Regions from separate parts of the Homo sapiens genome. Here regions 2, 3 and 4 are each linked to region 1. The links come from fine-mapping of genetic effects on gene expression. A gene starts in region 1. Each other region holds a variant in brackets. All regions are shown on one strand. Distances are from middle to middle.

Region 1 (7,356 bases):
GCTCATTTCTTTTTTAGTGCCACATAATATGCCATTGTCTAGATATACCATAGGTTATTTGTCCATTTACCTACTGAAGTTCATCTTGGTTGCTTCCAAGTTTTGGCAATTATGAATAAAGTTGCTACAAACATCATGTGCAGGATTTTGTGTGGACATAAGTTTTCAATTCATTTGGATAAATACCAAGGAGTGGGATTGTTGGATTGTATGGTAAGAATATGTTTCATTTTCTAAGAAACCACCAAACTGTCTTTCAAAGTGGCTATACCATTTTGCTACCAGCAGAGAATGGGAGTTCCTGTTGCTCTACATTCTTGCTAGCATTTGGAGTTGTTGGCATTTCGGATTTTGGCCAAAATCCAAATTTAGGTAAATAAAGTAGTTTTACCTCATGGTCATCTTAATTTGCTATTCTCTTTTATTTTTTATTTATTATTATTTTTTGAGACGGAGTCTTGCTCTGTCACCCAGGCTGGAGTGCAGTGGTGCAATCTCGGCTCACTGCACCCTCTGCCTCCTGGGTTCAAGTGAATCTCCTGCCTCAGCCTCCTGAGTAGCTGGGACTACAGGTGCATGCCACCACACCAGGCTAATTTTTGTTCTTTTAGTAGAGACAGGGTTTCACCATGTAGGCCAGGATGGTCTGGATCTCTTGACCTCCTGATCCACCTGCCTCGGCCTCCCAAAGTGCTGGGATTACAGGCGTGAGCCACTGCACCTGGCTTTAATTTGCTATTCTCTAGTGACATACAATGTTGAGTATCTTTTCTTTTGCTTACTACTATCTGTATATCTTCTTTGGTAAGGTGTCTGATCAGGTTTTTTACCCATTTCTAAATTGGGTGGTTTTCTTATTGTTGAGTTTTTAAAACTCTTTGCATATTTTGGATAACAGTCCTTTATCAGATGTCTTTTGCATATTTTTAGTAGAGACGGGGTTTCACCATGTTAGCCAGGATGGTCTCGAGCTCCTGATCTCATGACACACCTGCCTCAGCCTCCCAAAGTGCTGGGATTACAGGCGTGAGCCACCGCACCTGGCTTTAATTTGCTATTCTCTAATGATATACAGTGTTGAATATCTTTTCTTTTGCTTACTGCTATCTGTATATCTTCTTTGGTAAGGTGTCTGATCAGGTTTTTTGCCCATTTCTAAATTGGGTGGTTCATTTTCTTATTGTTGAGTTTTTAAAACTCTGCGTATTTTGGATAACAATCCTTTATCAGATGTCTTTTGCATATATTTTATCCCAGTTGTGGCTTGTCTTCTCATTCTCTTGACAGTCTTTTGCAGAGCAGACATTTTTAATTTTAATGAAGCCCAGCTTATCAGCTCTTTCTTTTATGGTGCCTTTGGTGTTGTATCTAAAGAGTCATTGTGATACTCAAGGTCATCTAGGTTTTCTCCTATGTTATCCTCTAGGAGACAGTTTTATAGTTTTGTGTTTTACATTTAGGTATATAATCTATTCTGAGTTAATTTTTGTGAAGGGTATAAAGTCTGTGTCTAGACCCCCCCCTTTTTTTTTTTTTGCATGTGGATGTCCAGTTTGTTGAAAAGCCCCATGTGTTGAAAAGACTAAGCTTATATAATTTTCAAAACAAATTTTGAGGGAGGGAGTCACTGTTATTATCCCAATTTTTTGGATGAGCAAAGTGAAGCACAGAGAGGTGATTTATAAAAAATCACCCAGAGTAACACAGCTAGTACTTTACAGAACTGAGATTTTGAATCCAGGCAATCCAGCTCCAGAGTCCATGCACTCAACCCCTATCTATAATAATAATGTCTCCCTCATAGGTTCATTGTGAGGAGTAGAGATAGTGTCTAGTATATAATAGGTACTCAGGAAACACTAATGATAGTCGTTGTCCTACTTAGCCTGCAAGGTTCCGCTCAAATGTCATGTTTTTGGGGTTTTTTTTTTTTCTTTTTTGGAGACAGAGTCTTGCTCTGTCGCCCAGGCTGAAGTACAGTGGTGTAATCTCCGCTCACTGCAACCTCTGCTCCCCAGGTTCAAGAGATTCTCCTGCCTCAGCCTCCCAAGTAGCTGGGATTATAGACATGCACTACCACGCCTGGTTAATTTTTTGTATTTGTAGTAGTGATGGGGTTTCGCCATGTTGGCCAGGCTGGTCTTGAACGCTGGCCTCAAGTGATCTGCCCACCTCAGCCTCCCAAAGTGCTGGGATTACAGGCATAAGCCACCATGCCTGGCCTCAAATGTCATGTTTTTGAAGCTGCTCTTCTCACTCCTCAAGCCAAATAAGCCTCCCATCATAGCACCTATCTCATCATCCAAGTAATGCCAGCATGGTGAACCCTACTACTGTCACAGCTCAGGTCTACCTGTTCCCCATGTGATTTCCCTGGAGATATGCCATGTCTGATCTCCTTCTGTGTCACCCCAAGTGCCTGGGGCTGCACTTGGCACTTAGCAGGCAGTTTGTTAAATTGAATTTGAGTTGCATGTTATTCCAAAATGTGTATCCCGCCTGGGTCTATTCCTCAGGAACTCCCTAACTCTTACTCAACTCTCTGCTTTCTGAGCCTCCTTGCTCCAGCCTTCCCTGGTCTGTCAGGTTGGGCTGCCCTTGCCTGGAGAAGTTCCTGTTTGGGCTGTCTAGGGAGGTAGCAGCATTTGTCTGCTACACCCTTCTTCCTGCACCACCCCACTCAGTTTCTTCCACATTCTGGCACACCCCACTCCAGCATGGACACTGCCCAGGGAAGTGTCCCCATTTCTTTCTTTCTCCAAACTCTAGACATAGCACCTATCTTGGAGGCCTGGTATCTGGATGTCCCTTGGCCTCTCCCAGGAAGTATAAACTGTCTTCTTGGTGGGTACAGCAGCTCACTTGATATTTACAGCACACAGTGGACCCAGGGACAGACTGCATTCCAAAGAGCTTCTGAAAGTGTTAATCTTGGCATTGGTGAACTCCTTTAGGGAGTGAGTGGCACTTACAGCCATGGCTCCCGGGCCCTGGTACGCCTCTTGATCCACTCCATTTTGAGGCAGGGCTGTATCAGACCAAGCTATTGGGAGTCTGTTTTTACCTTGGGGAGTGCATTCTGGCAGTGCCATCTCGGACATGGCAGGCAGTACCTGGTCTGGACTGAGCCTGGGGCACCATCCAGCAGGGCCCTGTGTGTGCCTCTGCAGAGCCACCTTGGGAGGAGGCGGCCAGTAAGACTTAATTGCTTCCTTTAGACAGCACTACCTTGAACACAGCCTGCAGAGTTCGGTGCCTGCCTTGGACAGCCCCTCTTCTATACGTTCATCATGACCCTGGTGCCTGTCCTAGGCAGTGCCACTCAGCCCCTTTCGGACCCTTTTCGGACAGCCTCCAGTGCCCAGTGCAGACAGAAACTCCAGGCAGGGCCTCTCTCAGACACAGCGAGAGGGGCTTCGGAGTCCACAGCGGACGGAGGCTGCCAGGGCAGCGCCCGGCCCGCCTGGCCCACGTCTGGCGGCGCGCACTGGCGCTGCCAGGCAGGCCGGGCGTTTATCCCCACAGCCGCCAGCAGGGAGCTCCCTTTCGGCTCGGCCTGCGCGGTCGCTGGGGGCGGCGCTGAGCTGCGCCGCGCTGCGCTCTGCTCCATCCCTGACCGGGCCGAGGCTGCTGGATGCCGCGTCTCCGCTTCTGCTGCCTGCCGGGCGGGCTCCGGTGGCCGGTGAGTGCCGGTCGGCGGCGGCGGCCGCTCGGTGGCGGGCCCGGCTTGGTGGGGCGGCGGGGCGGGCTCCGGCCGGGAGGGAGGGCGGGCGGGCGGCGGGGCCCGCCGGCTCCTCCTCCTCCTCCCCCGTCCCCTGGAAGCAGCGGCCCGGACTCCCGGCTCCCGTCCCTGGCGGCGCCGTGGAGCTCGACGCCCGGGGGTGGGGGCCGATCGGGAGCGGCGGGGAAGGGGGAACCACCGGCCCTTCCAGCCAACCTGGGGGGCGCAGGGAGGCAGGACAGGGTGGCCTTCAGTGTGGGGGGATTTGGGGCTTGGAGGCGCCCAGGTGGCCCGGAGCTGCGGGGTGGGGGCTGCAGCCTCGAGGGTGGGGGGACTTCTCCTGCCCCCGTCCAGGCCCCACGATGGAGCGAGCGAGAGAGCGGGGCGCTGAGGAAGGCAGCGGGGAAGGGGAGCACCTCTACCGACCCTTTTATCCCTCCCAGCGGCCTTCACTCTTTCACTGCCGGGCAGACTGCGGGCTCCTCTCAAAGGAGCAGCTGCTAGACAGCTGGCAAAACAATGGAGACCCCGCTTCCCTGGGCCCCCTCCTCTTGGGACAGAAGATGAGAGGGTGAATGGTGGCAGGCTTTGGGGATTAGGGAGTGCAGGCTGTGCCCTGAGACTGAATGCTCACCTCACCTTTCCCTGCAGAGGGGTGGGGTGCGTGTGGGAAGGTCGGACAAGCTGCCCCAGGCCTCTGGAGAGACCGCCCCGACGCCCCGCCCTGCTAACCTGTCATGCCAGTTGTTTCGCCAATGGGAAGGGGAGGTGGTAGGGGTGGCTGCCCCCTCACCCTGCCCCTTGTTAGTGGGGGTGCGCTCCTTGGTCCCAAACCCGGCCAGGAGTGTGGGTCATGTTCCTGGGTGCGATAAGGCCCGCAGGGACAGGCCAGGCATTGGGGCTTTGTTTTGGGGGTGGAGATGGGGGAGTTGCCCTACTGCAAGGCACATGTGTCTTGCTGATTAGTTGGAAAGGTTGCGGCCAGAATGAGCTAGAGGTGGGGGGTGGGGGAGATGGGGAGGAAGACAGCCAGTTTGTTTTTGAGCGGGTATTCATTTTGCCTGACCACTTTGCCAATGGGGCATGTGTTTGGCGCTGGCCTCATAGTTTGTATTTGTGTGGGGAGGGCTGGGGGAATGCTTCCTGAGAGGGACTGTCCTGGCTAGGGCTTTCATTCCCTCAGATGGCCACCCCGAATTAAAGAATTGGATTCCCTCCCTGCTTCACCCTGCCAATGACTTGGGCTAGTTAGTGTGGGTTCGTCTTGTCTTTTGGAGCCCCTGGCGTGTCTGTGGCCGAGAAGGCCTCATCAGTGCCCCTGTGGCAAGTGAGCTCTGGGAAGTGTGTATGCACTGGGGTGTGCTGGAAGGGAGGGGAGGCCACCTGGGTGATTAAGAGCAAGATCACCTGAGCAGGACGGTGAGTACAGAGCCCATTGAATCAGCCGCCTTTCCCTTGTGCTTTGGAGCCCTTTTCTTGAGCAGGTTGGTGCCCTGTTGTTGTGGCAACAGGCCTGGCCTAATGTTCCCCACCCTTTTTAGTTCAGGGGCTACTTTCTATCTGGAGATATTGAAAGTTGCTCTCCTGAGGTCTCTGGCTTCCTGACAAGCCTCACTGGCTCTTTGTCCATGGCTTCCCACCTCCTCAGCTTCCTCTCTGTTTTTTTGTGATGAAGTCTTTCCAGGAAACATCCTCCTGGTTTCTGGATTTGACATGACGGGTTATATATAGCCTCGGGTGGAGGTGTGCTTGTCCATTTTGGGTTGAGGACATGGGGGTTGTGGCCTCAATTCCAGGAAAACCATGGCTTTGGGGGCAGCTATTGTGTTGAGGGATTAGGGGAATGAGAAGGGTTGTAGGTGGGGGTGGAGGGTGGGCATGGGAGGGGCCACAGGCTGGCGGTCACTTCCTTTGGGAGCTTTGAACTTTGAACAGTTGATGACCTGGTGCCTGGTAGCTCTGAGTGTCTAGTTTGTTTACTCTCTCCTGGCCTGGCCCAGGTGCCAGAGTGTGTGCCTGAGGGCTTCCTCCTGCGCCCCAGACTTTCCTCATGTGGGTTATGCCCTTCCTGACTCCCACCTGGTCTCTCAGCCTCACTCCTGGGCTGTCTGGGTAGCCAGCCAGTTCCCTGGAGGCCCCCTCACTGGCCCTGGTAGTGGCTATTCATTGAGGACTGCATGTGTCTTCAGAAACTGGGCCTGAAAACTCTGGGTCCCCCAGAGGCAGGTACCTAAAGGTGGACTGGGTGGGGCAGAACTGGGGCTCATGTGAAAGGGAGAATCCACCCTGCTGAGGTGGAGCTGGGAGTTGTTGGAACTCAGGAAGCCTTCATCTGGACTTGCTGTGTCACAGGTCTTCAGGGCAGCAGGGCTGTTCTTAATCCTTCAAACCAGAGGTCTCTCCTCAGCCAGATCCTCTCACCTGGGGTGGACGCCACAGGCAGGAGCCAGAGCATCCACGTGAGCTGGGTTTTGTTGGTGGCCTGGGGTCCCAGGCCTGAGTGTGGTGGGAAAACTGAGGGGCTCTGGCTGGTTGTAGTTTAAAGGTTTGGGGCAGTAGGAGGGCCCAGCCCACTGTCTGCTGTAATTGACAGGTTCCCACAGGACTTGGGATTGGTAGGGCAGCTTGATGGAGTTTAAGTTCTGCTTTGGGTCAGACCCCCGGGTGCTTTAAGATCTGCACACCCCACCCCATCACCATTTCTTCCCCCTAGCATTTTCCAAGGTGGCCTGAATTAGAGGAGTTGGGGAGGTGCCGAGGTAGGAGCTGGATTGGGAGGGGTGGTGAGCAGACCTGGTGAGCCTCCACTTCCCACCTTCACTTCCCTGCCCTTCTTTTGAGGTAGGAATTGCAGGGCTTGTAAAATGTCAATTTCCCTTGACATTTTAAACAGTTTAGAGTCAGGCAGCAGTTTTGGTTGTTAGACTGATGATTTTACAGGACCCAGGGCCCTTTCTGTCTGCCAAGTAGTTTATCATCACTTACAAGAGATTATTGTGATTATTCTCTAATATTCAGAGAGGTTGGATGATGGGCTGAAGGTCACACAGCAAGTCAGAGGCAGAGCGGGATTACAACCTGCAGTGTGTGGTTGAGCAGAATAGCTCTCCAGCAGAGGCTGAGGGCCAAATCTGAGCTGTCAGGCCCTTGAAGATAACTGTAGCTGAAATAGTGGAGGCTTAGAGAGGGGAGGGGACTTGCTCAAGGTCACACGGAAGGGGATGTTAGCGGAACTGAGCGCCAGGCGGTGCACCTGGAAGAGCAGCAGGGAACCTGGCGAGGCCGCAGGAGCTCTCCCGCTCGCGTTCCTCCATGGCCCGCGGGATTGCTGCCTTCCGGGGGAGATGGGATCGCAGCGGGAGGCGCCGCGGGGCTGCGGCTGCGCCGGCCCAGCCGCGGGGAAACGCCAAGGGCCGCCCGGCTCCCCGCGCGGCGGCGTGAGGGCTGGCTAATGTCACGTGAGAAGCGTGCAGTCGGCGTGAGGGAGCACACCTGGAGCCAGATAAGCTCCGTGTGACCTGGCAGGGAGTCACCCGGCGCTGCGGAGCTCAGCACAGCCGGCCGGGAGGAGGCTCCCCCTGGAGCACGGGGCCAGGCCAGGTGCTGGCTACCCCTCCGGCCGCTGCTACAACCCT
Region 2 (7,356 bases), 41 kb after region 1:
TGGTGAAACCCCGTCTCCACTAAAAATACAAAAATTAGCTGGGCGTGGTGGCGCCTGCCTGTAATCCCAGCTACACAGGAGCCTGAGGCACAAGAATCGCTTGAACCTGGGAGGCGGAGGTTGCAGTGAGCCGAGATGGAGCCACTGTACTCCAGCCGATAGAGTGAGTGAGACTCTATTTCAAAAAATAAAATACAAATGAAAAGAAGTTGAAACACAGAGAGATCAAGTTGTGTAGTTTACTTCATGCAAGAGCCAAGATTAAACCAGGCCGTGTGGCCCTGGAGGTCATACTCCTAACCATGGTATGCTGTGAATCATTCCTTTCAAGCCGTGCTTCTCAGACTTTAATGTGCCTCAGCATCACCTGGAAGCCTAGTTAAAACACAGATGCTGCACCCCATATCCAGAGTTCTTGGTTCAGCAGGTCTGGGTTGGGTTCCTGGAATTTGCATTTCCAACAAGTCCCCAGGGGATGCCCACGCTGCTGGCCTGAGAACTTGGAGAACCAAAGCCCTTTCACATACATTATGTACCAGTCTCATACTGGTTGGGTAAGAGTCAGTAAAGGTGTAATCCTCATTTTACAGATAAGGGAAATTTAAGTCACCTGCCTGTGTTCACACAGCTAAATCATTCATTCATTCACTCATTCATTTAACAAATGGACATTTCTGTGCTAGGCCTTATGCTGGCCTTAGAGTCTTGCAGTTCTCAGCCTTGGCTGCATGTGAGAATCACCTGGGGAGCTTTTATCAATAAAAAATCCCAGTGTCCAGCCAGGCGCAGTGGCTCACGCCTGTAATTCCAGCACTCTGGGAGGCCAAGGCGGGCGGATCACGAGGTCAGGAGATTGAGACCACGGTGAAACCCCGTCTCTACTAAAAATACAAAAAATTAGCCGGGCATGGTGGCAGGCGCCTGTAGTCCCAGCTACTCGGGAGGCTGAGGCAGGAGAATGGCGTGAACCCGGGAGGCGGAGCTTGCAGTGAGCCGAGATCACGCCACTGCACTCCAGCCTGGGCGACAGAGCGAGACTCCGTCTCAAAAAAAAACAAAAACAAAAAAATCCCAGTGCCCAGGCCCCTGCTCCCAGACCAATTATGTCAGAAACTGAGAGGGAAAGGGTGGGCTCCAGGCATCAGTATTTTTTTCAAGTTCCCCAGTGGATTTCAGTGAGCAGCTGAGGCTGGCACCATTGTTCTAAGTAGCCACTGAAGATGTGAAGACCTGTGACACTGCACGTGCTTCAGAAGGGCCAGATGCTTCCCCTGGGGGGACATCCCACTCCCTAGAGAGCAGGACACAAGCGCCGTGTCCTAAGAGTCTGTGTATGTGACTATATGACAGTGAGACTTGGACAGCGCATGGCAGGTAGGAGGCAGGGCTGGGTTTCCATCCTCTCTGGCAGTGCTTACCAATCTTTTCATGGAGAAAGTCAGACAATGTATAGAACCAATGGCCCTTAGAGCTGGCCAGGGGCAAGAAGCATGGGGTGTATGCCAGACTGGTTAGGAGGCGGTTCTGTATCAGGGCTTCCTAGCACCACCCCCACCCCATTTTTTTTTTTTCCTAAAGAGGAAGAGGGAGGCAATGACTGTTTCCTTTTTTCTGCAGAGCTGACGGCTTCTGAGACTTGCTCTCCCTGTCTTTTGGCCCCTTGACATTCTGTTCTCCAGCTCCCATTTCAGCGTCTCAGCGGGTCCCTAGTCCTGGTCTAGGCATCCCATGGTGCTAACTGGAGAGCCAGGCCAGGATTTCTCTTCACAAGAAACACTGGCTTTTCACAGGCAGCCATCACTCATTGGCTAGACACCCATGACTTCCTCTGTCTGCAGGGCTGAGGCCCACCCCACCCTCCTCTCTGCCTGTGCAGTCCCTGGCGTCTGTGGAGGGGAGAGGGATGTAAACAAAGAGAGTGTAATTGATTCTCTGCATGTCCCCTGTGTGCTGATGGCAGTGGGGCAGTAAGTGGGCCTGCCCGTGTGGGTCTCTGCTCCTGCCAGACCTTACAGGACTGCTTTGCGGCTGCTGTTTGGGCACAGTGTGCAGTGGGCCCCGTGTGCTGTCTTGGATGTGACGTTAGTGGCTGTCTTGGCCTCTGCCGCAGTAATTAGATGGCTAGGGTAGGCCTATGATTTGGGTGTTCTCAAGAACACTGTGTTGATTGAATGTTCGTGCATGCTGGTGTGTGTGTGTGTGTGTGTATACGTGTACATGCACATGAGTGCGCATGTGCTTGTCTCAAGCTTGGCCTGTGGGGCCGGGGGCTGCAGGTCTCAAATTCCTCTGCTATTTTTAGGAGCCATATCAGCCCAGCTGTCCCGGAGCTGGGGTGTGTGTCCATAGGCAAGTCTCACCCTCCCTGTCCTTGCCCTAACCCCCTAACACTGCCTGCCCCCCACCCCAATGGCTTTACCCTAAGAGCCTTCTCCTTCCCTTCCACACACACTGCTGTATCACCCTCTCCCTCCTGGCATACCTGATACCCGAAGTCCTCCGGGCTGCTGGCTCCAACTAGGGCTGGGCAGCTCGGGACGGGAGGGGCCGGGGAGAGGGCGGGAACTGGGCGGGGCCACAGCCTGTGCTATTTTGAGCTGCTAACGGAGCCAGAGCAGCATCAGAGCGGAGTCTCCTTGCTCTGGGCTGCTCCAGGCCAGGCCATGCGGGTGAGTGTCCCTCTGACCCCCCACCCCGGAAATGTCCCAGGCTCCTCATGCTATTTCCTCATTTAGGAAAGGAGGGACCTTTTTGTGATTTCCCCAGATGTGGCTGAAGTAGGTGGGGAGAGGGGTGGGGCAGCCTTGGGGCTCCTCTCCGAGCTTCTTGGTAAGAAGGGAGTTACTCAGCCCCGGAAGCCTCAAAACCCCTCCGTGGCTAGGAGCAGGGCATCCTGGGCCTGACTCATGACTTCAGGAGTTTTGGAGGGGCACTGTCTTCTGAACCTCAGTTTCCTGGGGTTGCATCCACCCCCAAGGCTGTGACACGCCTTCCCCACCAACCATTAGTGCTTTTTTGGCCTTCATTCCTTAGAACACTGTTTTCTTCCAAAGCCCCAGCCCCACAGCACCCAAGGTCCTCGGTAGTCTTGTCTCTGCTTTGTTGCTGGTATAGCTCTTTCCTCTCTTCCTCCTTGAGAGGGGATGGTCCTTGGAGTTGTCAGGGAGCACCCTTCTCGCTGTCCCCAAGAGTAGTCTTAGCATGGCCACCTCCATTTCTGTGCATAGGACACTTGCAAGGGGCACAGATGGCGTGTTGGGGATGCTCTGACTGGCCCTAAGTCTCTTTTTTAGTAGAGATTACTCCAGATAAGTAAGTTCCTTAAAAAAGAAAGTGAGGAGAGACATAGCTGCTCCCAGTCCTTCCCGTTCCCCTGACTCTACCCCTCCCAGCCACCAAGGGTAAGGTTTTCAGTTGTGTCAGCAGTTGGCAGAGTACGTGGGCTGGCCTGGTGCGGAGGTGCATCAGGAGCCTGAGATGTACCCGTGAGTACTTGTATCTCTCTGTGCTCAGGACTGCCCTGCCTCAGCCCCCAAACTGGCACCAGGGCTGAGTTGTGTGGGCAGTATGCCCGGGGGTGGGGGAGAGGTCAGAGAGAGCTCCTCACCCTGAGAGATGGGCGCTTCCTGGTCTAGGGTACTCTCCCCCAGCCACCCCCGGGCCACTAGCACCAGGTCACAGATTTAGGGCCATGCACAGTGATATCCAAGCAGACAGCAAAGTGCCCTCCAGAGGGGCAGTGAGCATCCCCAGGGAAGGGGGGCCTCCAGCAGGTTCAGTCGTTGGAGGAGGAAACCAAGACCCTTCTGCAACTGC[A/G]GTTGCGGCAGGAAGCCATTCCAGTGCACCTGCTTCCTCTGGGCTGGCCTGCAGTGAGGCGGGTGCCCGGCTGCTTTCTGTTCCGCCCTGGGGCTGGGGAGGGCTCTGGCTGGAGGCTGGACTGCAAGGGCCAGGTTGTCCCTGCCAAGCTCATCTCCCCCTCCCCCGCTGTCTGGCAGCATGGCCTTCAGTTCATTCCTTAGAGAGCTTCCCTTCCTCTCAAGCAGTTCCACGTAAAGCATATTCAGGTTGGTGGGTGGAGGGGCGGGTCATCATTGGGAACCCCTGCTTTCCTCCCAAGCTGCTCTTCTGGCAGCTGATGTAGAAGGACAACAGTGCAGGTGAACCAGGGGAAATGGAGGGCAGGGCGTGCCTCCATCCCTTAAAGTGAGCAGTGGAGGGCTCTCGCAGGAGACCTGAGTGTGAGTCCCAGATCTGCCACTTGCTGCTGTGAGGCTTTGGGCGAGTCACCTGACCTTCTGAGCCTCCTTTTGCTCATTTGTAAAGTAGCAGTCACACAGTCACACTAGTATCTATTTCAGAGGGATGTTGTGAGGATCAAATGAGATGATTCATGTGAGGGATTCAGCACAGCACCTGACACATACCAAATGCTCAATAATGATTAACCGTTTTTTACTATTATGCTAGTATTTCTTCCCTTCTCCTTTGTTCCTGCCACCCTTCCTCGCCCTCAATCCCTAGATAAGTTGGTGCTAGGTTGGGACTGGGAGGAAGAAGTCTCCTGGGAGCTGCCCTCTGTGCCTCTGAATGGGAAAGAGGGAGGAGAGGAGAATGCCCTGCCTCTTGGTCCTCAGAAGGAGAAGCCTCCGGTGTGTGAGTGCTGTCAGAAGCGGCGAGGCGGGAAAGTGACCTCGGCCACCAGCTACGTCTCAGCTTCCTTTGGGCACTCTCTTGAGAGTTACCTGCTGCTCTCGGGGGCTTGCAGTGTGCAGATGTCTGGTGTGGATGCTTGGGCCTCAAAGCATTTGTCCAGGCCAGGCATTCCAGGCCTGAGGGGCTGCCTGAGGCGTGGCATTATTCTCCCAGGAGCATTTGTGCCCCCATTCCCTCCTGTGAGGGGCCCAGAGAGTGCAGGTTAAGGGCGGGTAGGCTCTGCTGGCATGGTGGAGGGTAAACCCCAGCTGCTCCCAGAGTGTCAGAAGCCTCCTGGGGCTGAGGCTTGACAGTCCCTCAGTACATTTCTTGGATTTCTCCTCTTTGAGAACAAATGCTTCTAGCTATTATCTCCTTTGCTTTTTTTTTGACTATTTAGCCATCTTCACAATAAAAATAAGCAGTAAGTAACAAATACATACCAAAATAAATACCAGGTGTTCATGTTGTGTCTAATTCACACAGTTTACAAGATTATTATGATCACTGTTTGTATACTATTTGGGTTCCAGTTTTTTTGATTGATGTCATTTTATATGGAGCTTTCCATATGGTTACATTGTCCACACATTTGTCAGTTTAAATGGCAATACAACAACGGGTTGTACCTAACCATTTCTTAATTCTAGGCATTTGGGCTCTTTCCAATTTGGAGCTGTTATATAGAGTGCATCTATAAAAATCTTTGCGTTTTTTTTCTTTTTCTTTCTTTAAGTCAGCTCACTGGACATACATTCCTGAAGATGGAATGGGTAGGCCAGAGGATGATGCATTTTGTGGCTATTGTTCACGAAGAGCTACTAAGCAATTTCAGTGTCCTTGCCCTCCCTGCAAACCCAGGCATTGAGTTCACTATGTATTTATTGTGAGCAGGTTTAGAGATTATACCTCCCTTGTTTGTACCATGTCCCTGGGAATCAGAATGGGCAAGTGTTGTTCTCTGTAGTTTATATTTGGGGAAGAGATTAGATGGGAATAAGAGGTTTGTGCAAAGAACCCCTGTCCCAGCACTCTCGTGCAGCTAACATTTATTAAGCGCCTACAGTATGATGAGTAAGATGGGTAAGTTCTGCTCAGAGGTGAATCACAGTCCAGGGATGACAAAGACGCACAAACAGCTCCCCAAGATACATTCTGGTTGTGGCTCCCAGCTCTGCCACTTAATAGTTGCAGCGCTCTCGGCAATTCACCTTCTTTATTTCCTTATCTAGAAAGTGTGTTGTTATGAGGATTCAATGAGGAGACCTGTATGAAGTGCCTTCCCCTGTGCCTGGCTCATAGTAAGTGTTCAGTGAGTTTTGGTCTCTCTTGCTGTCCCTCAGAAGTGCCACAGAGGGAGGAGGTGGGTAGACCTGCAGAGTGGCAGAATCATGGTGGGGTCTCCCTTTTTGCACATCCAAAAACTCGATTTGGAGAGTTGCACACTAGTAAAACACACTATCAATCCATGCTTTGGCTTGACCAGATCTTCTGAACCTTCACGCCGATGAAGTTTATCAACCAGATTTGGCTACCAAAGCTGATGCCTGCCTAACATACCAGAAAAGGTGGGCACTGAGGAAGCAGCACAGGCTTTGGAGGCAGACCAGTGTGGGTTCAAGTCTGGGTTCCCCCACTTAACTAACTTTGTGACTTAATCTCTTTCTGAATCTTTTCCCTCCTCGATAAAATGGGAATAATAATAATTCCCATATCACCAATCCTCAGATTGTTGTAAGATTTACATTAGAAAATAAATGTTCAATATCTTGTATAGGGCCCATCTCATTGTAGGTGCTCCATATTCAGTAATGTTGCTGGAAATGGCTGAAATCTCTAGAGAGAGAACAAGTCAAGGAAGAGAGGCCTTAGATCTAAACACCCTTGCTCCAGAGAGCCATATGTTCCCAACACATATGCTGCCACCACCTTTGGGGCCTGAGTTCCTTACCCATTCTGTCTTGGATAACAGTAACTTGATCTTTTTTTTTTTTAATTTTTGTGGGTACATGGTAGGTTTATGTACTTATGGGATACATTACATATATATATATATATATATATATTTTTTTTTTTTTTTTCTTTTGAGATGGGGTCTCACTCGGTCACCCAGGCTGGAGCATGCAGTATTGCGATCTCTGCTCACTACAACCTCTGCCTCCCAGGCTCAAGCGATCCTCCCACCTCAGCCTCCCCAGTACCTGGGACCACAGGCATGCACCATCGTTCCCAGTTAATTTTTTGTGTTTTTGGTAGAGACAAGGATTCATCGTGTTGCCCAGGCTGGTCTCAAACTCCTGAGCTCAAGTAATCCACCCACCTCAGCCTCCCAAAGTTCTGGGATTACAGGCGTGAGCCACCACGCCCGGTCCATGAGATGTTTTGTTTTGATATGGGCATGCATTGAGAAACAAGCATGTGCTTGGGCAATGGACAATGGGGTCTCTACCCCCTCAAGCATTTATCCTTTGGGTTATAAACAATCCAGTTCCAGGATAACTTGCTCTTGATCCTAAACAAATTCAGTGATAAGGGAGAGAGGAAAACTGTCTAGGCAATTCTGCATAAAAGCCACAGAGAGAATTTCCTCTGGGGAGAGCCCCACATCTGTGTTCAGAGTGAAGCTCATAGGAACAGCTGATGCAGAGGAACAGGCCTGGGTGG
Region 3 (7,356 bases), 54 kb after region 1:
GAGGAAAGCCAGAAGAGGGAGGGGAGGAGTGTAGGATCCAGTGGCTAGGGCCACTGGCCAACTCTGCAGTGCCCTGGCATGCCATTGAGCACTCTTGGCCTAAGAGGTTGAGGAAGAGGCACCTTCAAGCCCTTACTCTCTCTATCCCTTCAGCGGAGCCAACCTGTAACCAGGGCCTAGATTAAGGCCCTTGGCTCAGCTCTGCTCAAAAGGTGGAGCAACTTCTCCTTGTGGCATCCAGAGGCAGCAGCTCCCAGGTGCGCCTACTGTGAGCGTCTTCCTGCATCCAAGCAAGCATGGGCAGGTGGGCCTTCACGGAGCCCAGTGCCCATATGTGTTCTAGAACCAAGATCATTGTTTTGGGTAACAAGGACTCAAGCACAGCTCAGCTGGTGACAGAGCTCTGCTTGGCCAACAAGGAGAACCCAGGTTGCCCTTACGCTCCCCAGGCAATGGAGCTGGCTTTATGGGAAACTCTATCCTGCCGTTAGCCAGCCTGGCCTTCCAGTGGCAGTCCCTTGGGACCCAGACAGTTAGCACCAGTGTGTGGGGGAAGGGTGGGCACACCAGCTAGAGTATACCAGTCCACTCCAGGGAAGATTGGAGCTGAGGCTGCTTGAGGGCTATACACACTCTGGGAACTAGGGGGTCTCCAAACCCTTGAGAGGTTTGCAGGAGGAAAACTGCAAGGAGACTGGCAGAAAGCAGGCTGAAGTGGAAGCTTCCTGGCCCGTGCTGGGCTCCTCAGTGCTTGAGAACATAGATGAAGGGCAGACAGTGGCCGCAGACGAGGGACGCTGTGAGGAGGAGGCCTGGCATGTCTTGGGGCCAGGAAGAGCTCCCTGATCATTTTTTCCTTCAGGATGGGTAGGCTCTTGGTCTGACTGCCCGGAAAACAGGTGATGGAAGGACCAAGGACTACAAAGGTCAGGACGCCCTGGAGTTAGGCCTGGGATTGGTGGTAGGAATGGAGGTGGGACTCGGCTGTTTGACCTCTCCATGCTCCATCTCTGCTGTGTCCATGCTCCATCTCTGCTGTGTCTGGGCTGCGAGGCAGTGGGCTCACCTAGAATGGGACTTGGTTGCTGCCCTGACACAAAGCCAGTAACCCCAGAGCACCTCATAGGCCTCTCGGCGCTCTGTGCCGGCATCTCACAGGTCCATGCTAAGTCTGGGGATAGACAGCAGGTGACAGTAGTACCTGATTGTGCTGATTGTGCTTTGTGGGAAAGAAGCCAGACTCTTAGCTGCAGTTGTCCTATTTGTAAGATGGAAAGTGGGCTTCCTGGGGTAGCCTCGTGGAGCCATGTGTTGCTTGGTAGATGAATGGGAGATCTGTTCCAGGGCGTGAGGTCACACCTTCTTATTCCCTCTGCATGGGATGGGCAGGGCTGCAGGGGTGATGCTAATGTCTACCTGTATTTGTATGACTGTAGCTAGAGGGCAGCTCAAAGGAAGGCAGTGGCCCATCTAGGAGTCCTCAGCCTCCCACCAGCCCGATACCCCCAGAGACTTCCCAGAGAGCCAGGAGCCCTGCACCCACACTCGCCATGAACGGCCCGGGAGCTGCCACAGCAGAAGGCCTAAGCGAAGAGGCCCAGGGCCTGTCCCGGAAGCGGGTGGCAAATGCAGTGAGGAAGGTGGTGAGTAAGGTGCTGCCCAGCGAGGAGCTTGGGAATGCCAAGGAGACCCCAGGCAGAGGAGTCAAGTCCCCCGAGCACCCGACTCGAAGCAAGAGGGGAGAAAAGGCAGCTTCTAGTCCCAAGCCGCCACCCCCTCCCCCACCTCCCCCTGCTCCGCCTAAGCCTGAAGTGAAGAAGGAGGCAGCCAAGGATGAGCTCTCCCTGGGCCTGCGGAGCCTGATGTCTCGGGGCAGGGGCAAGGAGCACAAGGCCCGCGGCAAGCAGTCTTCTGGGAAGGGGGAGAAGCCCTCCAGCCAGGAGCCAGGCTCCCCAGACTGGGCAGACTCCCCTGAGAAAGCAGGATCCCCAGCCAAGCCTGAAGCCCCAAAGAAGCAGCGCTCCCCAGCCCCACCGGAAGAGCTGGTGACCCCAGGCTCCACCGGCCCGAAGTCAGACCTCACTGGAGAGCAGCAGTCCAAGTCACCAGTCCCTGGTGTGAAGCAGGAGGTACAAGAGTGTGTCACTAACCGCTCCTGCCCCTCACCACCCTAGCTCAAGGGCCAGGCACCCTCACAGCCGGCTTCCCCAAGCGACCTCAGCGAACCCCGCATGACCGAGAGGCTGGGCCCAGGGTCGTGTGCTGATGGCCGGCAGGGGCTGCATGGCTTTCCCTAACCCAATGCGGACCCTGCAGTTGCCTGGGCTCTGGCCTGGCGGCTGGGATGGAAACTGCTAAGCAGCATGTTGGCCTTGCCATAGGGAGTCAGGGCCTGGTCCCCAGCTACATGGCGCCAGCTTGAGGCCTGAGACCCAAACCCGAGGATCAGAGTCTCAGCAGATCAGTTCCAGGAGGAAAGACTGTTTTCTCAAGTCAGGGATCTGGGCTTGCATTCCCAGCCACTCATCCCCTGGGACCTCAGCAAAGTCCCATCTCAGACTTCCTCTGTTGAGTGGGGATAATACAGGTCCAAAATTTCTTCTCTGATACCCTGGGTGTGGCAGTATTTTGGAAATTAGTAATCTTTGTATTTTAGTGCCATACAGTATACATAATGAGCAACAACGTGTAACAAACATTAATATTTCCAAAGCAAAATCTATGAATATTCACACTACAGGGGCATAGAGGATAAACTGCCAGGTTTTGCCGCCAAAATAGTTAAGAAAAATATTTTGTTTGGGGGGGCTTTTGGGATTTTGGAATTGCAAATAAGGGTTAATAAGGGTTTTAAGTAACCAGAAGATTAGAAATGATACAGATAATGCTCCAAGCCGGTCCCTGGCATGGTGGGTGCTCCATAAATGGTAGCGTTGATAGTGGTGCTAATAACAGTTGTTATTGATGCCCTCACTGCCATCACTGCCTTCTTTAGGCCTGGCCAGCATGACCATCTGGCAGCAGGACTCTTGAGGAGCCCTGTGCTTGGATGGCAGATGGGTACAGTGGGCCCCTTGGGATATAGGGGCAACCCTATCTTCCCAGAAAGTGTTCTCTGGGTGGGGCAGGAGGCTGAGAAGCAGGAGGGAGGGTCAGTCCAGCCTCTTTCCCTTGGAAAGTGTTGCCTTCTTGGCTGGCCTCTGAGTTGGGGACAGTTCTCTTCAAGCTTCCCTTTTTTGGACCCTGCTGAGGC[C/T]TCCCAGGGTGTGGGAGAGGAGCATCAAGTTTTGCCACTACTTCCCTGTGCTCATGCAGGCTCCTTCTGGCTGGAAGGAGAGGGGTCTGGAGGGTATGGGGGAATAGCCTGAGAGGCCTTGAGGCCCTCCCTGACTGTTACCTCCTGGGACCTGGGGAGCCTTGTTGCTCCCCATTCTTCCTGGGCATTGCAGCACTTAGAGAAAAGCCAGCCGCCGCTTCCCCCACCCACCTGGCCCACTCTGTGAATCAGGGAAGTGCCTGTTCCTGCTCACAGGGAGGAGCTGGCATGGGCATTTTGGGCAGGGTATGGGCAGAACTGTTGGTCGCTCTGGAGAACCCATAAGCAGGTGGGGAGTGTCGTGGTCCTGTTCCCGGGCGGCTGCCCTCCCCTCCCTCCTCCCCGTCCCTCCTCCCCGTCCCTCCTCCTCTCACAAGGGAGGAGATGGGAGCTGAGACATGCCCTGACCTGGAGTTTAGCCACCTGTCACCTGGGCCTGGGGAAGGGTCCAGAGGGCAAGTGGGATAATAGGGCCATTTGGTGCTCAAGATAGGCAGGTGGGAAGAAATAACCCCAGAACTCCCAGGCACTTGTTCTTTTTTTTCTAATCTGATGGTTTAAAAACTCAGATTGCCGCGCGGCTTGCTCCCTGGCGCTGCTCCCCTTCCCTAGTGGGTCCCAGTGGCTTCCTGGGCTGGGAGCTCCGCATGCTGTGGCCTCTCCATTTCTGGGCTGGGACTAATAGTGGTTTAACCTTTAGGCAGGAGCTGCCAAGGTCCAGCTGACCCCCGTGGAAGAGGCCCACCAGCGGCTGGAGAGGATCTTCACAGCTTCTGTAATGCCACTCTTGTGTGTGGGTCCCAGTCCCTGGCCGCCCTCTTCCTGAGGCTGGCGGCAGGACCCTGTGTGTGTCTGTAGGCGCGCTGACCATGAAGATGGCTCCATGGCGGCCTGTGGGCCCTCATGTTGGGCTCTCTCTTAAAGAAATGAGAGAAGTGCTCTGGGGAGAGTGGTTCCTCCAGAGAGCCCAAAGTCCTGTGCATGTGGGAGGGCACCCCTCCTCGCTCAGGGCCCAGTCCCTTTCTCTGGCCACATTGTCCTGCCTCGAGGACATGTGTTGGTGTCAGGGCCTGGCGGGTGGTAAGGAAGGTTGCTGTCGCTATTTTTGGTGACCTGGCTCTCTAGACCCAGGTGGGGCCTGATAACTCCTTGCCGATTTCTAACAGGTAACATCCAAGTCCTGGTTGACTTGCCTTCCTCCCCAGAAAGGCTTTTCAGGGCTTTAAGTAACCAGAGAGGTCACGGCTGGCCACAGGGTTTGCCCACAGTGCCTTTGCTCTTGGGCAGCTGTCAAGTGGTCCCCAGGTTGGATCTAGATGGGGTCGGTGTGCCTGGCTGGCAGAGGTGGGAGTGCTATAGGGTACGTCGGGGTTGAGGAAGAGATTCTAGACTGCAAGCTGCTGGGAGCTGTGTTCTATGAGAGGTGCAGGGCGACAGCTCTGAACACAGCCCTTGGCCTAGGGAGTGGCACCCTTGGGCTGTGTTAGAAGGCAAGGAACAGCTCTGTGCTGGTGGCCACAGGGGAGCTAGGCTGAGAAATGCTCTGGAGATAAGGCAAGAGGCTGGCAGGGGGCCCAGGCCTTGGGTGTGGTGAGGTGGCCTGACCTGGTAGACACACAGAAGAGGGAGCCTGATTCAGAATAGACCGGATGGCCAGCCCAGGAGAGACTGCGGCCAGAGGCAGAGTGGCAGACTCCTGCCCGGGCCACCGGGAATGACTTAGAGGAGCATCTCCTCTGAGAGGCCTGATGGTCACTAGTGTCTCTTCACCTTCCTGGCCTCTCCTTGACTGGGTGCAGTTCACCTGCTCAGGCCAGGTCCCAGGTCCTGGCACCAAGCTCCCCCACCTTCACCCCGAGCCTTGGACAACTAGAGAGTGCCGGCCCACTTGACTCAGGAGCACTTGCTGAAGGGGGCGTGCCAGTGGTCTGCTTATCTTCACCCTTCTTCTCTCTCTCTCCTTTGCTTGCTGTCGGTAGCTGGACTCTGAGGCCGCCTCTCATGCCCACAGCCAGGTAGGGTGCTCTCCCCCCACTCAGGAGCCCTCCGCTCCCTCCAGTGACCACCTAGCCCCACTGGCCTGCACCTGGGCTGGCGTCTGTGCTCGGGCCTCCTGCTGGAGTGTAAGGCCTCTTTCCCCTCCAGGCTCCCACCCTGTGTCTGGGAGGACCCCAGCGGGAGGTAGTGCCGGGAGCTTGAGATGGTGCAGCTCTGTGTCAGGCCCCTGGGGAGCATCTAGACCGAGTGTCGCCCTTCAAGTTGGGCCCATGTGGCATGTGGTTCTCAGCCACTGGAGCCCAAGGGGGGCCTGGTTGAGTTCTAGGTGTTTCAACTCTGCTCACTCTGGAGAGAGAAAGCTGGAAAGGCAGAATCTCTGCCCTCTTCCCAGCCCATGCCTGAACGTGAGACATTCTCTGTCTCCACCTCCTGGCCAATGTGAGAAACCCATTTTCAGATGAGCTTTAAGGGAGTTAGTTACAGGCTATGATGTCACCTTATTCATCAGTCCCCAAATACCTGGCCCATAGAAGGTGTCTATTCAACATAAAGGTCTCCCCTGTCTTATGTGATTTGAGAAAAAATATATATATACAACATTGTAATGATTTTTTTTTTTTTTGAGATGGAGTCTCGCTCTGTCGCCCAGGCTGAACTGCAGTGGCGCAATCTCGGCTCACTGCAAGCTCCACCTCCTGGGTTCACGCCATTCTCCTGCCTCAGCCTCCCAAGTAGCTGGGACTACAGGTGCCCGCCACCATGCCCAGCTAATTTTTTGTATTTTTAGTGGAGACAGGGTTTCACTGTGTTAGCCAGGATGGTCTCGATCTCCTGACCTCGTGATCCACCCACCTCAGCCTCCCAAAGTGCTGTGATTACAGGTGTGAGCCACTGCACCTGGCCATGATTTTTATAGTTATAGTTCTTCAAATATAAAGAACTAGCCTTTTTAATGTCCTCACTTAACACACCAAAATGTGGCCAGCCACGTGGTGATCCTCCTATTCAGAGTTATTTCATGGGTCCATGAAACCCGGAGATCTGGGAGCCACTGGTGCAGCCCAGCCCTCCTACTCCAATCTGGGGAAGGGCCGTCCAGCACTGGAGGGATCTGTCTAAAGCCAGAAGCCAACCTGAGAGGAGAGCCCACGTCTCCTTTACTTTCAACTCCAAGAAATGTGACAAAGAACATACTTCTTATGTTTTCTTATCTTTTCCTGATTTCTCACCCAGGGGGTCAGGACCCAGCCAGTGTCCATGCCTGGGCCTCAGGTTTCAGGCTGACTGTGCCTCACAGCTGGGGCCCTCCGAGAGTGTAGGGGCTCGGGCTAACCTGAGGGTGGGTCCATGCCACTGGGGTGCCCATCCCCCACCCGGGGCACGGGATGACCTTGCTGCCATTTCGCCCACACACAACAAGAGGAGCCCGATGGGCCCTGGGTCCCTCGTCTGTTTCCCCAGCTCCCCCAGACACCGTTTCTTCCCAGTTCAAGTGTCCTTCTTAGAGGGTGCCAGGTTTGACAGCCCCACACCGTCAGTACCTATGAATGCTTATGTCTGAGTTGGTGACCTCCTGAGGCCTCTGGGGGCTTCTAGCCCCTTTACACCACTCCTGTGCCCATCTGTATAACGTGTAAGCCTCTCCCTGTGTTTGACAGGGCAGGGCTGCCCCTACCCCCATATCTCTGGCCGCACTGCCTCGTGCCTTTGTATGGCATTAGCGTGTCCACTAGGTCTGTGTGACAGGGGTCTTTGCTGATGGCGGCATGGAGAAGGAGCAGGGAGGCTGATGTGTGCACCTGGGCACTGTCCCCCGGTCCGGGTAGAGCACCCTCTGGAGGGGAGGGCCAGGGCTGAGGCCAGGGCTCTGAGCCCACCTATCATTCTGTACTGCGAAGTCCAGGCGACTCCCCGCTGAGATCTGAGGACATGCCCTCTCCCAGCTTGGCAAAGGAGGCCCTATCATTTGGATGAAGGGAGAAGCTGGGCACGGAAGATCCTAGTAGCTGTGGCTAGGGTCTAGGGCCTTGGACTCAGGACACTGA
Region 4 (7,356 bases), 63 kb after region 1:
GTGCAGTACCTGGCCACCATCGCGGGCATCAGCGGGAACAAGGTGTTTTCTGGTGAGGCAGGGACAAGGGAGAAAACTGAAAGTGGGGTGAGGGGAGGGGAGTGAGGAGAGAGCACCCTCTTAAGTGCCAGCTCTTTTTCTCCCTGGCCTTTCCATCCCCCCGAAACCCCTCTGTCCACGGGCAGTTCTGGTCTGAATGGCCCCAAGCCTTCATACCTCTGGGGTAGCTCCTAGCTGGGGGATAAGCTGCCCCTGGCTTTCCTGATATCCCCTTGGGCCTGTATTCTGCAGTGGAGAAGTGGCAGGCTCTGTACACCCTCCTGGAAGCCTTTGGGAACAGCCCCACCATCATTAATGGCAATGCCACCCGCTTCTCCCAGATCCTCTCCCTGGACTTTGACCAAGCTGGCCAGGTGGCCTCAGCCTCCATTCAGGTGAGAGTGCTGCCCAGGACTCGGGGTAGTAGGACACAGGCCACATGATTTCATGACCTAGACATCAGGCTCTCTCCCATGCCTCATTTTCCTGGGATTCTACCCTAACAAAATTGACCCAGGCATGGGCAGGGTTGGCCTGCACTATCCAGAGGCATCACCATTCTGCCCTCAGGGCCTCCTGCCCTGGATGGGGCCAGTCCAGCTTTCTGCCCAGTTCCCTTCACTCTCCCAACCCTGGGGTTGTCCTAACTCTACTGCTGGGCCTCAGCCTTACTTCCCACTTTCTGAGATTCATGCTCGGGGCTTCTCTCGGGCCGATTTCACCTAGCAGAGGACTGGCTTGTCAGTAAAGTAAGGCCCAGCCAAGGCTGATTCCCTCCCATGCTAAATACCTCACCACAAGCTCCCATTTCCAGAAGGCAGGCACCTGGGGTCTGGGCAGAGCAGCAGGGCCCCTTTGGGAGCTGGGCCTGTCTTCTTCCACCTCATTCTGGTTTCTGTCCCCCATTTGATCCTAGAGGGATCTGGTATCTGATTGAGCACCTTGGGAATAAGATGCACCTGCTTAATTGAGCCAGATGTGGTAGTGCACGCCTGTGGTCCCAGCTACTTGGGAGGCTGAAATGGGAGGGTCACTTGAACCTGGGAGGTTAAGGCTGCAGCGAGCTGTGATTGCGCCACTGCACTCCAGCCTGGGCAACAGAGCGAGACCCTATCTTAAAAAAAAAAGACTTAAAAAACAAGATGCAGGTTGGGTGCGGTGGCTCACGCCTGTAATCCCAGCACTTCGGGAGGCTGAGGTGGGTGGATCACCTGAGGTCAGGAGCTCAAGAACAGCCTGGCCAACATGGCAAAACCCCATCTCTACTAAAAACACAAAAATCAGCCGGGTATGGTGGTGCATGCCTGTAATCCCAGCTACTCAGGAGGCCAAGGCAGGAGAATTGCTTAAACCCAGGAGGCAGAAGTTGCAGTGAGCCAAGATCGCTCCACTGCACTCCAGCCTGAGTGACAGAGTGAGACTCCATCTCAAATCTTAAAAAAAAAAAAAAAAAAAAATGCAGCTGCTTGTTCCCCAGGGCCTAGAGGACCATGTGTTTGATTCCTTCTTATGTGGGGTGGGAGAAACTTGATCTGGCACTACCCTCCTTACCCACACGTCCATGCTGTGTCACAGACAATGCTTCTGGAGAAGCTGCGTGTGGCTCGGCGCCCAGCCAGTGAAGCCACATTCAACGTCTTCTACTACCTGCTGGCCTGTGGGGATGGCACCCTCAGGTGAGATGGGTCAGAGGGTACACAAGGGTTCTCTGAACTCCAGCCCACTGACTGGGCTCCTGGACCTTGATTGCATCCAGAATTAAAGCCACTTGATCGCATCCTGCACTGTTTGGTCAGTGCATGTCTGCTATGTGCTAGGCTCTGAGCTAGGCCCCAGGGACAGTGAGATGGATGAGACATAGTCCCTGCCTATCAAGAACTCCCTGGTCCTGGGTACTGGGGCCTGGCTGTATTGGAGGGGAACAGCCAGCCCTTCAGTGTTGCCAGGGCCTAGCTAGGATCTCCATTACCCATGAAGCCAGTTCTGGAAAGCAAAGCACACTGAGGTACCAGTGGTTGGGGACTTGCCTACTGTCGCATGACTGGTAGGGGGCTGAACTGGTATTTGAATCCACACTGGGGCCAAAAGCCCATGCCTCTTCCAGTGCCCTCCAGACTAGCCCTTCCTGCCCCACGTTGGCTGCCTCTGCCACGCTCTTCCCTTCAGACATTCAGATTTGCCGCGTGTGTTCACTAAAAAGAGATAAATGATGAGGCTGAGCCAGCATCCCCAGGCCATTGTCCTCTTTAGCCCTTCTTGTAACTGAGGGCATCGTCTCTGCCTTGGCGGGACTCACCCTTCGGGCAGGTTCCCTGCTCCCTTCCGGGGGCCAGGTTGCATCCTCTCACCAGGGCATGTCTGGTGGCTTGTCCTCAGGAGAATGGTACTCTAACCAGGCATCCAGGCCAGTTAGGAAAGCAGTGACAGCTGGCCCGCCAGTTGGGGATGATGGGATGATGGGCAGACAAAACTTGGAGTCTGGAAGCTGAGTCTGTCTGTCTCCACCCTGGGCGGAAATGGCCTTGGCATGGGGACCAAGTGCCGTGCTGATGCCTTATTTGTACCCCTAGGACAGAGCTCCACCTCAACCACTTGGCAGAGAACAATGTGTTTGGGATTGTGCCACTGGCCAAGGTGAGGGGTCTGTGGGGTCTGGGTTGCCAGCCCTGGGCCTTGGGGGTAGGAGAAGCCTCCATGGGTCCTGTGGGAATAGTGGGAGCCCAGCTCCAGCTGCTGGCTCTACCCAAGCCTTGCCCTGAGGGCCCAGCCTCATGGGGGTGTGCTGGGAGGGACAGCCCTTTGAGGTCATCTATCTCCACAGCCTGAGGAAAAGCAGAAGGCAGCTCAGCAGTTTAGTAAGCTGCAGGCGGCCATGAAGGTGCTGGGCATCTCCCCCGATGAACAGAAGGCCTGCTGGTTCATTCTGGCTGCCATCTACCACCTGGGGGCTGCGGGAGCCACCAAAGGTAACCTGCAGTGGGTCCCAGTAGGCTGGCCTGTCCCCTGGGTGACCTCACAGGGACCCTGCCCACTCCCAGTTTATTCTTGCCCAGCACAGACTTAGCCGTTCTGAGACAACCCTCTTTTGCTTGTGCCTCTTCTCAGCCCCCCACTTCAGAGCAGAAGGCCCGGGAAGCATCTTTGGCAGTGACGACCCGAGGCCTGGACTTAGCTGGCTGTGCTG[G/A]GGGGCACCATGAGGAAGCATGGAGGGCTGGGGGTTCAGAGGCTGAGGGATGAGAAGGGCACTAAGGCAGGGCAGCCCCGCTGGAATAACTCTCCTTCTTGTTCCCTTCCTGACAGAGGCCCCCGAGGAGCAAGCGGGTAACTGACCTTGGCCCCGCCCTTGGGTATAGGGGCCGCCGTGCCCTGTCTTGGTGCTTGCCCAGGACTTTCTAGGGGCTGGGCTTGTTCTGTTGCTGCAGAGAGGACTGGTCTGGGGAGAAGCCTGGAGGTTGAGAGTGGAAGTGGAGCCTGCAGGCTGTGGGGTGTCTTAGAGTCCCAGGAGTAGCTGCTTCTCCTGCCAGTTTTAGATCTGAATCCTGGAACCTCTCAGGATGCCCACCGTGGGGTGGGGTAGGGTGGGCTTGCTACCTGGGGCCTCCCCAGACCAGTTTTCCCCAGTCCTCTTCCCTTCTCCACTGGTTGGGTAGCTCCGTATCTTCCTCTTGCATGTCAGGGTGGCGGCCACTAGGGGGCAGCAGGCACCGTGGTAACGAATGGGCTGCAGCTTTGGCACTTGCGCTCGGGGACTTGGCCTGGCTTGGAGGAGCTCTGCTCCATCCTTCAAGATGACTTACGTTGGAGGATGGCGATTCGAGCACCTCTTCACCCCCTTTTTCTCCAGTTTAGGGAAAGGGGATGCTGGCGCTGAACAGCACCTTGGGCTTTGGCTTTGGCCCCTTCTGGGATGTGAAGGGCCCCAGGCTGCTCAGCTGGAGTGAGAAAGTCCTGGCAGGTGGTGGGTGTATGGAGGAATGGGTGCCCAGGCGTGAGGCTCCATGCGAGCGACCCCAAGAAGTGGCATCCCTGCCCAGGAGGAGCCAGGCTCTAGGTTAGAGAAGTTTTCTCGAGAATGTGGAGGACAGACAGGCGGGCAGGCGTGTGGCTGTGTGTTGAGGGAAGTTACTTCACTCTGAGGCGGTGACAAGCCTAGCTTTCCTCTAACCTACCCAGCCCCAACTGCAAGCGGAAAGCTCCGGGTGTCAGCACAGCGATCTTCTCAAACAATGTCTGTTAGCGCCTCAGAGCTTCCAGTGTTTTCCGGCGGGGGGGGGGGGGGGGGGGGAGGGTGTGTTTGCGCACACACACATGTGCACAAATGTCTTTGCGGGTCTCTTTCTGTGTGTGTCAGTGTGATTACACCCACAAACATACTCCCTGGAGACTGTGTGTGTGTGCGTTTGTCCCAAGTCTGACTGTGGTTGTGTTTTCTTGCCTACTCATCCTCACAACACCCCCGCCCCACGGTCCCTCCGAGGCGGCGAGCTCTATTGATGACTGTTTGCTAACACACTGTTTTTCTTTGCATGCTGCATGCTGGTCCTTTGCCTTACAGAAGCTGCTGAAGGTAAAACCTTGTTTCTTGTTAGCTTTCCCTAATTGCCGTGATTAGACACATGTTGGCTGAGGCACATATGTCTGTGCGGGCTGTTCCCTTTCCCCTGTGGCTTTTTTGCCTCCCCACTGTTGGGCCATCAGTGGGTGTTTGTGGTCTCCACTGGCAGATGCCAGGGGGCAAGAGGGAGGGTTCTAATGTACTCAGGGAATGTGGAGGCATGAGCGATCTCTCAAGATAAGTCCCCCACAGGCACACGGGGTTCTTGTGCCCATCCCAGGTGGGCTGGTTCATCCTCTGACTCCGCCCTTCCCCTAGTTGGGCATCCCCGGAGCTGAGCCATCTGAAAAGGGATTTTTGCAGCTGGTTTGTTGCCCTCCGGTGGCAGCATGTGGAGTTACCTCCTCCTTTAGGACCTGCTCATTCTCTCCATCCCCACGGGACACAGGAAATGCTGGCCACTGCTGGCTGCCCCTGTTCTGCCTGAAGCCCATCGGGTGTCATCAGGGCTGGCTTTTGCCTCCAGAAGATGCATAGTCATCAGCTGGTCATCAGGTCATCAGCTGGCCTAAGGAAAAAGACCCAGGATGCCAGATCCCTTTTTCCACTCCACAGCTGGGCGCAAGCAGTTTGCCCGCCATGAGTGGGCCCAGAAGGCTGCGTACCTACTGGGCTGCAGCCTGGAGGAGCTGTCCTCAGCCATCTTCAAGCACCAGCACAAGGGTGGCACCCTGCAGCGCTCCACCTCCTTCCGCCAGGGCCCCGAGGAGAGTGGCCTGGGAGATGGGACAGGTACCCTTTGTCCCTTGGCTGGTAGTTGTGAGTGTGAGGCCTCATCTGGGGCTTGCTGCCATCCCTGGGGCGGGAGGGGACTGCTGGAGTGAACAGATGCTCTGTCAGTGGCAGAGGCCCTGCCCCAGGCCCCGTGCTGACTGGGCCCTGGGCAGGTCAGGGGCTTACCCAGATGGGGAGCCCTGGGGAGAAGGAGATAGCGCTGCTCCCCCTGCCCCACAGGCCCGAAACTGAGTGCACTGGAGTGCCTTGAGGGCATGGCGGCCGGCCTCTACAGCGAGCTCTTCACCCTTCTCGTCTCCCTGGTGAATAGGTGAGTGCCAGGCAGGACCCAGGGCTTTTCCTGCTTTGGCAGAGGTGGAGTAGATGCCTTCATGCCTTGTTGGCCGAGGCAGAGCCGGTCTCTTCCAGCAGGGGCTCCCTGTCCCATGGGCTATGAGCAAGGCCAGCATGCCCTCCCCACCAGGGTCCTGGGCAGGGATAGAGGTCTGGCTTGGGCAGGGTGGGGCTTCCTGGTGCCCGGGGCCAACCAGCGAGGCTCTGACCCAGGCTGTCCCTATCCAGGGCTCTCAAGTCCAGCCAGCACTCACTCTGCTCCATGATGATTGTCGACACCCCGGGCTTCCAGAACCCTGAGCAGGGTGGGTCAGCCCGCGGAGCCTCCTTTGAGGAGCTGTGCCACAACTACACCCAAGACCGGCTGCAGAGGCTCTTCCACGAGCGCACCTTCGTGCAGGAGTTGGAAAGATACAAGGAGGTAGCTCTGGGGCCTGGGCCTCATCTAGCCTCAGATTCTGGCCTTGGCACCCACAGCGAGGGCATCTGTGGATGCAGAAGGCATCACCTTACTCTCCATTTCTGTCCTCCTGCGCTCTCTGGAGCAGGAGTCGTTCCTTGCCCCCTTGTCCGTGGCCTCTGGCTTTGGCTACGTTCTTACTTGGTGGAGAGTTTACTCTCCAGGAAGCCTACAGGTGCATTGAGGGCCCCCAGGAGGCTACCCTTGGCCTCTTTTGAGGCACCTCCCAGGCCTGGTGATTGCCACTGTGTGGTTCCTGCTCCAAGTGTGTCTGGGCCTGGCCTTCCCGTCTCCCTTCCCTGATCTGTGAGGGTGCCAGGTGATGATTTAGTGCCTTCTGTAAAAGGGTGTCCCGGATGGGACGAGAACTGGAAATCCTGCCTCATCTGGAAGTGAGTTGAGTGAATTGTCAGGATATTTATTTGGGGCGAGAGAGGATTCAGAAGGAAAATGGCAGTTGTCTTCAAGTGTTTCAAGGATGATTGTGTGAAATTGAGAGTGGGCTTGTTCTGTGTTGCCTAATCAACTCATGTGAGTAATGAGAATGTGACTCTGGCTTCGGATAAAAAGAGGTTCTGAGAATTTTAGCTGTGCAAAAAATACAGTGTGTTTCCTTGGGAGCTGTTTCATTTGGGATGATGGAGGGAGCTCCTGCACGGCACAGAAGGAGGTTGGCCTTGCTGATCTCAGAGCCCCTTCCCAGCCTACTCACAAGGCTGTTCCCCACAATGTGACCCCCATGCTCACTACCGCTCGGCCTTCTTTCCCAGGAGAACATCGAGCTGGCGTTTGACGACTTGGAACCCCCGACGGATGACTCTGTGGCTGCTGTGGACCAGGCCTCCCATCAGTCCCTGGTAGGAGCTCCAGAGAGGGTTTGGGCAAGCCTTTCCTCTCGTTCCCCACCCCTCTCCCCGTGGTGGAGCCCTCCCCATCTGAGCTGCTGCTGGGGGTGCCACTGTGGGCTGAGGGAGGGTCCAGCAGCTATGCCCAGACACCAACTACTCTCTGGTGCTGGGGCTCTGCCCCTCAGCACTCAGGCAGTCTTGGCCAGGAAGGTGGCACTTTCTTCTGCCCTGGTGCCCTGGGGAGCCACAGCCCATGGGGGTCCCAGTCAGGCAGGAAAGCATATCTCCTTTCTCAGCAGCTGAGGCTCGGGCCCCAGCTGGTGACT

Evidence for each region. PIP is the estimated chance that this variant, and not a neighbour inherited with it, causes the effect.
Region 2: its variant is fine-mapped to the expression of MYO18A in whole blood (TOPMed, PIP above 0.99). The same link has a PIP of 0.9 or more in blood mononuclear cells.
Region 3: its variant is fine-mapped to the expression of MYO18A in whole blood (TOPMed, PIP above 0.99). The same link has a PIP of 0.9 or more in blood mononuclear cells and non-classical monocytes.
Region 4: its variant is fine-mapped to the expression of MYO18A in whole blood (TOPMed, PIP above 0.99). The same link has a PIP of 0.9 or more in esophagus mucosa, sun-exposed skin, tibial nerve and unexposed skin.

What each region holds. Positions count from the first base shown.
Region 1 is chr17:29,176,639-29,183,994 of GRCh38, reverse strand. It overlaps MYO18A (myosin XVIIIA), which reads left to right and starts at 3,597. Exons shown (of 42, transcript NM_078471.4): 1 at 3,597-3,682. RefSeq lists silencers at 3,518-3,738, 3,704-3,753, 3,874-3,923, 6,925-7,124.
Region 2 is chr17:29,135,653-29,143,008 of GRCh38, reverse strand. All of the region lies in intron 2 of MYO18A (myosin XVIIIA), which reads left to right. LOC124903967 (a long non-coding RNA gene) reads right to left here and starts at 2,535. Exons shown (of 3, transcript XR_007065693.1): 1 at 2,483-2,535. RefSeq lists enhancers at 2,091-2,140, 2,291-2,380, 3,581-3,630, 3,323-4,306, 4,307-5,290 and a silencer at 2,841-2,890. The variant A/G (reference allele first, on the strand shown) is at 3,817.
Region 3 is chr17:29,122,625-29,129,980 of GRCh38, reverse strand. The region is part of intron 2 of MYO18A (myosin XVIIIA); the gene reads left to right. Among named protein-coding and RNA genes, the nearest start is that of MYO18A, 54 kb to the left of the region's middle. RefSeq lists an enhancer at 1,969-2,504. The variant C/T (reference allele first, on the strand shown) is at 3,254.
Region 4 is chr17:29,113,694-29,121,049 of GRCh38, reverse strand. MYO18A (myosin XVIIIA) reads left to right here. Exons shown (of 42, transcript NM_078471.4): 6 at 1-52; 7 at 292-434; 8 at 1,615-1,715; 9 at 2,610-2,673; 10 at 2,861-3,005; 11 at 4,595-4,606; 12 at 5,210-5,386; 13 at 5,609-5,699; 14 at 5,951-6,143; 15 at 6,953-7,039. Among named protein-coding and RNA genes, the nearest start is that of MYO18A, 63 kb to the left of the region's middle. RefSeq lists silencers at 3,715-3,764, 3,585-3,879. The variant G/A (reference allele first, on the strand shown) is at 3,224.